2 linked regions of the Homo sapiens genome follow. The protein of the gene in region 1 interacts with the protein of each later gene in a pairwise test. Each region holds a gene or a part of one and is shown on either strand. Other genes may lie near its edges.

What was found.
Region 2: the proteins of ABCD3 (region 1) and TUFT1 interact in a two-hybrid assay, tested with the Homo sapiens proteins (one large-scale study listed by BioGRID and IntAct).

The regions. Positions count from the first base shown.
Region 1 is NC_000001.11:94,424,668-94,428,480, reverse strand, and holds part of ABCD3 (ATP-binding cassette sub-family D member 3), read right to left. Parts: intron 380-3,813; exon of another isoform or gene 1-379. UniProt on the Homo sapiens protein: Broad substrate specificity ATP-dependent transporter of the ATP-binding cassette (ABC) family that catalyzes the transport of long-chain fatty acids (LCFA)-CoA, dicarboxylic acids-CoA, long-branched-chain fatty acids-CoA and bile acids from the cytosol to the peroxisome lumen for beta-oxydation.
Region 2 is NC_000001.11:151,538,595-151,543,186, reverse strand, and holds the start of TUFT1 (tuftelin), read right to left. Parts: upstream 2,879-4,592; 5' UTR 2,821-2,878; coding exon 2,761-2,820; exon of another isoform or gene 2,281-2,760; coding exon of another isoform or gene 2,278-2,280; intron 1-2,277. UniProt on the Homo sapiens protein: Involved in the structural organization of the epidermis. Involved in the mineralization and structural organization of enamel.

The sequences.
Region 1 (3,813 bases):
TTTTTAAAATAGTGACATGCAATGATACATTATAAACATAACATGTTGACTAAATTATTATTTACCTAGAGCAGTTGCCTCATTCTACACAGTGCTTTTTAATGCCAATAAATGTATTAATAAAATATTAAAGTCCAAATAATTTAAGCATAGAGTAAATCATATAATCCACTTTTATGTCAATTATTATAGTACCATTATAGTGGTGAGACGGCTACATCTATTTACAGATATCAAACTAGCTGATTATGCTTTGATGAGCTTTATTTTCAATTTTATACTTTATTAACTTAACTGCATTCACTCGGGCCTGCTAATCTAGCAAACTGATAAGAAAGGTGTGTTTAAAAAAACACTTTTCCATTTCTCAATCTTGTGGCAAAAAAATAAAAAATAAAAAAAAAAACAAAACACCTTTTAGCATACTCCTATTTTACCTAAGAAGGCTTCAAACCATCTTAATATTTATAATAGTTCCACTGTATTACATAAATAGCAGTTATCCAAAGAATTTTATCCTTAACTTTATAGAAGGCTATATTCTTGACAGAGATGCCTAAAACAAAAGTGACTTACTCTTAAAAAGAATGTTATGATGAAAGCCATGTTTTTAAGCAAGGGCCTGATGCCTAATTTTATGTAGAAATAATATAAATGCCATTTTAAACAACAGTTACATAAAAATCTTTCCAAAAGAACTAATAGGGTCGAGCACAGTGGCTCATGCCTGTAATCCTGATACTTTTGGGAGAACAAGGCAGGCGATCGCTTGGAGACCAGAAATTCGAGACTAGCCTGGTCAACATAGTGAAATACCATTTCCCGTAAAATTTTACTTAATTTAGCAGATAAAATTCCAAAGAAAATGTAGGAAGATCCTATCTTTCTCCTTCATAATTCAAGTTCATATTACATTGAAACAGATTAGAAGGTGATATTCATCAGGTCATGGATGAGTGTGATGTTGATCCTAGGAAAAAAGTTACAACTTACTTATCTAAATGGGCAGTATGGCATGGGTACTTAGAAGGAAGTGGTAACTTTTAGGAGAAAATATGAATTCACCAAAAAACTATGTCAGACTAAGGTCATTCTTTTCTTTGAAAGGGACCACGAAATTTTTGTAAATTTTGTTCACTATGCTACAAAGCATTTGATGATAAACAAAATCAGGGTTTCTGCCCTTTCCATGTAAGAGACCAAGGCTAATACAGTTCTAGGGTCTACCTTCACACCTCTGTGACAGGAAAGAAAGACCCTTCCCCACACCAGCTCCAGCAGAAACATCCCAAAAGAGGACTCTGGCCCAGTATGCATCAGGTTATGGATACTGTCAGAATGCCAGGTCTACTACCAGAAGGAAATGTGTGAAAAGATGCTGGTAAGTTAAAAATGAGAGCCAATACAATAACCAAAGGGTGTCAATTAATAGAAAGATTATAGTGGTGTAAACATACTGTTCTATACTCAGTCCTGTCCAATCAGTTTTTTAAGTTTGTTAGGAAAACATACAGAAGGAATAGTAATTAATTGTGCAGATCAAAAAGTTTCAGAGGGAAGAAGTAATGTGCCCAACCAAAAATAAGTATAAAGACCTGCACCCAGGTTTAAAAAAAAAAAAAAAAAAAAAAATTCAGGCTGGGCGCGGTAGCTCTCACCTGTAATCCCAGCACTTTGGGAGGCCGAGGTAGGCAGATCACCTGAGGTCAGGAGTTCAAGACCAGCCTGGCCAACATGGCGAAACCCCATTTCTCCTAAAAATACAAAAAAATTAGCTGGGTGTGGTGGCGGGTGCCTGTAATCCCAGCTACTCGGGAGGGTGAGGCAAGATAATCACTTGAACCCGGGAGTCGGAGGTTGCGGTAAGCCAAAATTGCACCACTGCACTCCAGCCTGGGTGACAGAGCAGGACTCCATCTCAAAAAAAAAAAAATCAAACACATCAAGGTGAGGAGGGGGAAAGAAGGGAAAACCATTGTGAAAGCTAAATACAAGTGAAAAATATTTGAGAGTCATAAAAATGAATGTAACTTCATGCTATTTTAATGAAAGCTTAACATCTTAGGATCTTTAATGAAAGCTTAGGACAAGGTAGGTCACAGTTCTCTGCTAGTGTGCCAGTGAGAAGACACTTTGAATGCCGAATTCCATTTAGCAATGCCTCTTTAAAAGGTGGAGAAATAAAGACTGTCATATTCAGGAAGCAGCAACTGAAAAAATACAGAAACCTAAAACCATGTCACATAAAACTAACTTAAGATACTTTCCAACTCTGAAAGTAAATGATTCTATCAATTGAAAAAGGCTTCCTTTGGGAGATTTTCATGGGTGTATCTGAGGAAATTAGGAAGGCTCGGGAGTTTTTAAGAAGCTAACAAAGGTATGTTTTGTTGTCCTTTTAGTTTTCTTTTAGCAAGCATAGAAATGAGAGCTACCTTTTATTTACTGAGCACTGGGTTAAAACGTTTTCTCCATTAATCCTCACTTAACTGCTGAGTGAGTGAGTAAATACTACTATCCCTGTTCTACTGAGGTTCAAAGAGGTTAAGTAAATTGACCAAGGTCACAGATCTGACAAACGGCCAAAGGAAAAATTGAACCTACATCTGACTCTAAAGACTATTCTTTAACACTATGCCAAACTACCTCCATAATAAAGATCAAGTAGCTGCACAAAAAAATGTTCATTTTTGCAAATTATAAAATACGTGCAAATTAAAATAATCTTTCAAGACTATTTTGCATCCGTAAAGTAGAAAAAAATTTAAATATCCCCTAATGATGAGTAGGTAATTAAGTCAGCATTCATTCATAGTACTGCAAATTGGCACAACTCATGAAAAGTAATACATCAACCTGTGTAGTTTAAGAATGCCCACAGTTTCCACAAACACTAAGGAAATTCATAAGCCTCCATTCATTAATCCTACTTCTGGCAATTTATTCCAAGGAAGTTATTCAGCAGAGATGAAAATGTTCACTTGCAAAAATACACCAGTATAATCCATAAAAATTCCAGAGACAGTCTAGATCCTCAATAGCTAACAGGAAAATAAACTAAGATATTGTCACACAGAGGAATATTTACGTATTTCTTTAAAAGTATAGTTATGAAGGTCATGTACAGGGAAATATAGGAAAGAGGTATGCTTTAAATGAAAATAACAAAACATGTACGTTATAACTGTAAAAATGCACATAAATACAGAATAAAAGGAAACAAAAATAAAACAATATTTGTATTATGGTTATAACATTATGGATGATTTTTAATTTTCTTAAATTGTCTTTAATGTTTACACTCTATTAAACTGTCAAAAGCAGGTGATGATAGCATTTTTTTAAGTTTCTGAGACTTGCTTTACCTGTACATATAGGGGGTATAAGTGGTCCAGCTCCTAAAGAGCTCATAAATATACTAAAGACAACATTTACATTTGTAGCAAAAAGAATGTGTTATTTAAAACAATAGTAACCACAGCCCCCAAAAAATGAGAATCTCATTTGTTGTTGTAGAGTCAAACAAATATGAGTGTCTACTATATATTCCAGCCACAGTTCTAGCCACTGGGGCTATAACTGTGAATAAAATAGACAAAAATTCTTGCCTTTGTGGAACTTAAATGCTAGCAGTATGTATATACTGCAAACATATACAACAGACAAGATAAATATGTAAAATATATAGCATATTTTATAGTGATAAGTGCTAAGGAGAAAAGTAAAGTCTGGAAGGTAGACAGGATGCTATTTTGAGTGGCAGGGGCCAGGCACAGTGGCTCTTGCCTGTAATCCCAGCACTTTGGGAGTCTG
Region 2 (4,592 bases), about 57 Mb from region 1:
TCTGAAAAACACTGGCTCCTTGTACCTGCTGCATCTGCCTCCAACAATAAAAACATCCCAGAGAGTGTATTGGCCCTATGTCCATGTCCACATGTGATACGCTAAGGCACACTGCCTGGCTAGTGGGGAAACACCAACAGAGTCCCAGGGCCCTCACTCCCAGTAGGATCTCTAATCAGTTCAACTGTCTACATTCTGACTCCGGAAGAAACATCTGTTCATTTATTTATTGACTCACTTTGCACATGAATTGAGCACCCATTCAGTGGTGTGAATATATGACAGATTCCTGGGGGTTGTCCAGAGCCATAAATTCTGTCTGCAAGTTGGCTCAGAGAAGAGGAATCCAGGACAAGGCCTGTGTCCCGACTGTTCACCATCTCCTCCCCTCCCTTAAGGGCCCAGGAATGTCTCCAAGATCAGATCTGGGCAATGATTACTTCATTCCCAGCTCTGGAGTAAAATAAGTCTCAAGTTCAGCCTAGAAAAAAGGAATAAAAGGGAATTTCTGTCTCTCCCTTGCTCTAGAGGTCTCTGGTTAGCTTCAAACTAACCTATGATGGAGACCATCTGAATTCCTTGTCCATTATTTTCTCTTAGTAATTTTTTCTGCCCCACCAGACAAAGAGCAAAAACATCAAGAAAGAGTAAAAGGGGCCAGATGTAGTGGCTCATGCCTGTAATCCCAAGCCTTTGGGAGGCCAAGGTGGGCAGACTGCTTGAGCCCAGGAGTTCGAGACTAGCCTGGGCAACATGGTGAAATCCCATCTCTACCAACAGAAAAAAAAAAAAAAAATTTTAGTCAGGTGTGGTGGCATGTGCCTACAGTCTCAGCTACTTGGGGAGACTGAGGTAGGAGGATCTACTGAAACCAGGAGGTGGAGGTTGCAGTGAGCTGAGATCATGCCATTGCACTCCAGCCTGGGCAACAGAGCAAGGCCCTGTCTCAAAAAAAGAGAAAAGAAAAGAGAAAAGAAAAGAAAGGAAGAAAGAAAAAAAATAGTAGAGGTTAATGATTCATTAACACTGCCAGTGCCAACTTGGTCTTAGACTTCTTTCCGGATCTCTTTTCTATATAGCAAGCAAGCAAAAAGCAGCCCAAACATCCCTCTCCTTTATTTATCTCATACCCTTTTCCCTCAACTATTCCAAAAGAGAGAGCAAGAGCATGGAAGAGAAGCTATAGGTGGTGTGCATCTGAAGTCCCAGCTACTCAGGAGGCTGAGGCAGAAGGATTGAGGCCAGGAGTTCAAGGCTGTGGTGTGCTATGATTGCACCCGTGAAGAGCCACTGTACTGCAGCTCCGGCAACATAGCAAGACACTCGTCGCTTAAAAACAAAGAGCAGGGAGTAGGACTTGTGGCTGACACATAATGGATAGATTTCTTCCATCTCTTCAGAGTCTCATAGCTGGGGATGTGGCAGGCTACAGAAGAATGGGGTTTGGGCAACTGGGGTTGGCCAATAGCAACATCTGTATTTTAATGTGGCAAAAACACTCATAGCCCAGGCAGAAATGGAGAGGGGACTGGGAAAAGAACTAAATGACCATCTGTATTCTAAACCTGAAATGAGTTTGAAGAAGAGCCATAATCTAGCTGCAGTTGGGTTAGCTCTACCTCAAGAGCAGGATGAGGCAGGCAGAGAGTAAGGGAGTCAGATGTGGGAGGGGGGATGATACACAAGTTCCCCATCACCTTAGTTTTCATTTCACTCCCACCCACAATAGCTTGGAAATTGATGAAATAGTACACACCTAATCTGGGTTAAGTTCCCCAAAAGAGCCTAGAAACACTCAGCCACAAATTACCCTCCTCAGCCTCTGGAGAGGAAAAACCATATGGTCAGCTAGGGTGGGGAGAACTGGGACTGGGAGCCAGAGAAAGAGGAGAGAGGGGTAGACCAGCCTGCACTGGAGAACGCCCCCTTTCTCCGCAACCCTCTCCCCGTCCAGAAGCCTTCGCTTGGGTCACTTCCCTCCCCTTCTCGGCCCGGGTTCTGCATCCCCTTCCTCCACTATCCCAGGGCCTGGCGGCTGGAGACGGAAGCAAAACTAACACACCGTCCCAGGAAGCTATCGGCAGGCAGATAGAGGGAGGAAAACAAGAGAACTACAAGGGGGAAGAAGGAGAAATCCAAGACAAGAGGTGACCCCCGGGCGGAAAGCCCTATCCCTTAGCGAAAGGTAGAGTCCCTAGCCAATCTCGGAATAGTTTGAGTCCTACCGTCCCCTACTTGCCCCCCGCCCTCCAGTCCAAGCCCTGTAATTTACTCTACCATTTTTCTTGTTACTGATCATCCAAAGCACCATGATGAAATTCTTTGGAGGGCCTCGGAGGTCACCAGGACCCTCGACCCACGGGAAAGCCTAAGCCTCCTCGGCAGGACACAACGTCCAAAGGCGCTCAGGGACCCAGTCGCTTGAGCTCATTCTCTTATGACCCAATGTGGCTGCCCAAAAGACGCCTGAGACCCGCGGCCCAAGCACGGGCTCGCCGGCGCCGAGTCCCAGGCAGGAGCCGCAGTGTCCTACCAAAGGGCAGGGACGCCCCGAACCCTCCAGCCTCAAAGGAGTCTTCACCCCGCGACTCCCACTGCCCGTCGCAGGCAAAAGAATAAAAAGAGAGAAGCGCCGCGCAGGGCTGACCGCGCGAGCCGGGCACCAGGTGATGTCAGCCAACACGGCGCGGGGCACGGAAGGGGCGGACTTAGAAACCGGGAATACAAAACGGAGAAGACAGCGAGAGCGCTTTTTCTTACCGCCGCCTGGTCCTCTGGGTGCACGTCCACCAGGGTACACCAGTTCCGCGTCCCGTTCATCTTCCCTCGGGGTCGCAGCACACACGCCACTTGTCCACCCCGCTGTCTGGCTCCAACTGGGCGGGCGCGCGCGGAACCGCCCCCTTGTATAGGCCCATCAGGGGCGGGGCTGAAGATAGGCCGCGCCCCCAGTTCGCGGTTTCGCAGAGAACTAACGATAGGCGAGGAGGTGAGGTGGGCGGAGCCAATGGGTCTGGGACATGCCCCATCGGTGCTCGCATAGATTTACACAAAGGTGGGGCTTGGGAGCGACATGGGGCTGCTTTAACTGAACAGCTTTATCTGGAGTATGTGGTTGCACATTCTTCATTAATCTTGTCGCTTTCCATCTTTCCAAGATCAGTGTTGGTCAGAGGGAATCACCCTGCCTGCTCCTAGTGGATGAGGAGTTGGAACCTGCAAAAGCTTCCTTCCATACATGCTCCTCTCCCTATACGTAAGCCACCTGTAGGCTTTGTGGAGCTGAGTAAACCTTTCCTCCACCGCAGAAAGGCAGGCACCAAGGTCCAGCTCACTCAGACTGGCCTAAGCCAGTCTGGCAGGTGCACTTCCTTGGCAAGAGGCCCAGGAGGCCCAGTCAGCTTAGGCTCTGGGTGGGGCTTGTTTTGCAGAAGCTCTTTTACTGACGCTGCCCTTATATAGTTGGGAGAGGCGGGACACATTGCCTTAAAAGGAATTTGTGTTCGTGAGAAAGGATGAGCCTTGACTTTTCCAGTTGCATTTTCTCCCCAAGCCTAGGCTGGGATCTTGAGGGCCTAGAAGAGAGGGTTGGCCAAGCAGGACCCTGGAGCTTCGTCCCCGCCCAGCTGCTCTTGGCAGATGGCTTCTTCACTTGGCTGTGGTCCACAGAGACAGCAGACAGAATACTTTAGGAGGAGGTCTGACCCACTCCTGAAGGGATAGTACTCCTATACCTGGCAATAGGCTCTAGTGAAGGGCCAGCTCCCTCTTCAAGGCAACACTAGGGCAGGAACAGCAGAAATGTCCCTACCTCCCAGTTAGGGACTGGGTCCTATGTCAGTTAGGAATGAATGAGGATTTTTCTACCTGGGAAGTGAATGCTGGGGTTATCACTATGACCCAAGGGAATAAAACCCAGTTCTGGTCTGTTCTACTCTAACCCTCAAAAAGGCATTTACTGCTGGCCAGGCGCAGTGGCTTATGCCTGTAATCCCACCACTTTGGGAGGCCGAGGTGGGCGGATCACAAGGTCAGGAGTTTGAGACCAGCCTGACCAACACAGTGAAACGCCATCTCTACTAAAAATACAAAAATTAGCTGGGTGTGGAGGCACGCGCCTGTAATCCCAGCTACTCAGGAGGCTGAGGCAGGAGAATCGCTTGAACCCGGGAGGCAGAGGTTGCAGTGAGCTGAGATCATGCCATTACACTCCAGCCTGGGTGACAGAGTGAGACTCCGTCTCAAAAAAAAAAAAAAAAAAAAGGCATTTACTGTCCTTGTTCTTCCCAGAAGGTTGTTCAGGAGAGAAGAGAATGGGGCTGCTATAAACATCTCCAGGTTTCGTAGGTCCCATCTGCTCTGTTCTAAAGGGCCTCTGAAAAGTCAGGTGAAGAAAACTCCAGCTTCGGCTCCTAAGCTGTACAGTTAATATGACTTCATAAAATCTGGACCTCCAAATATGCCAAGAAAAAGAATGAGAAGACAAACCAAGGATTTCAATATAAATGTGTAATTTTAATATTTAATTTAAAATAAAACCAAGGCTGGATTGGATTGGGAAAGAACGTTTGATTTGCAGAAGAATATAGGAA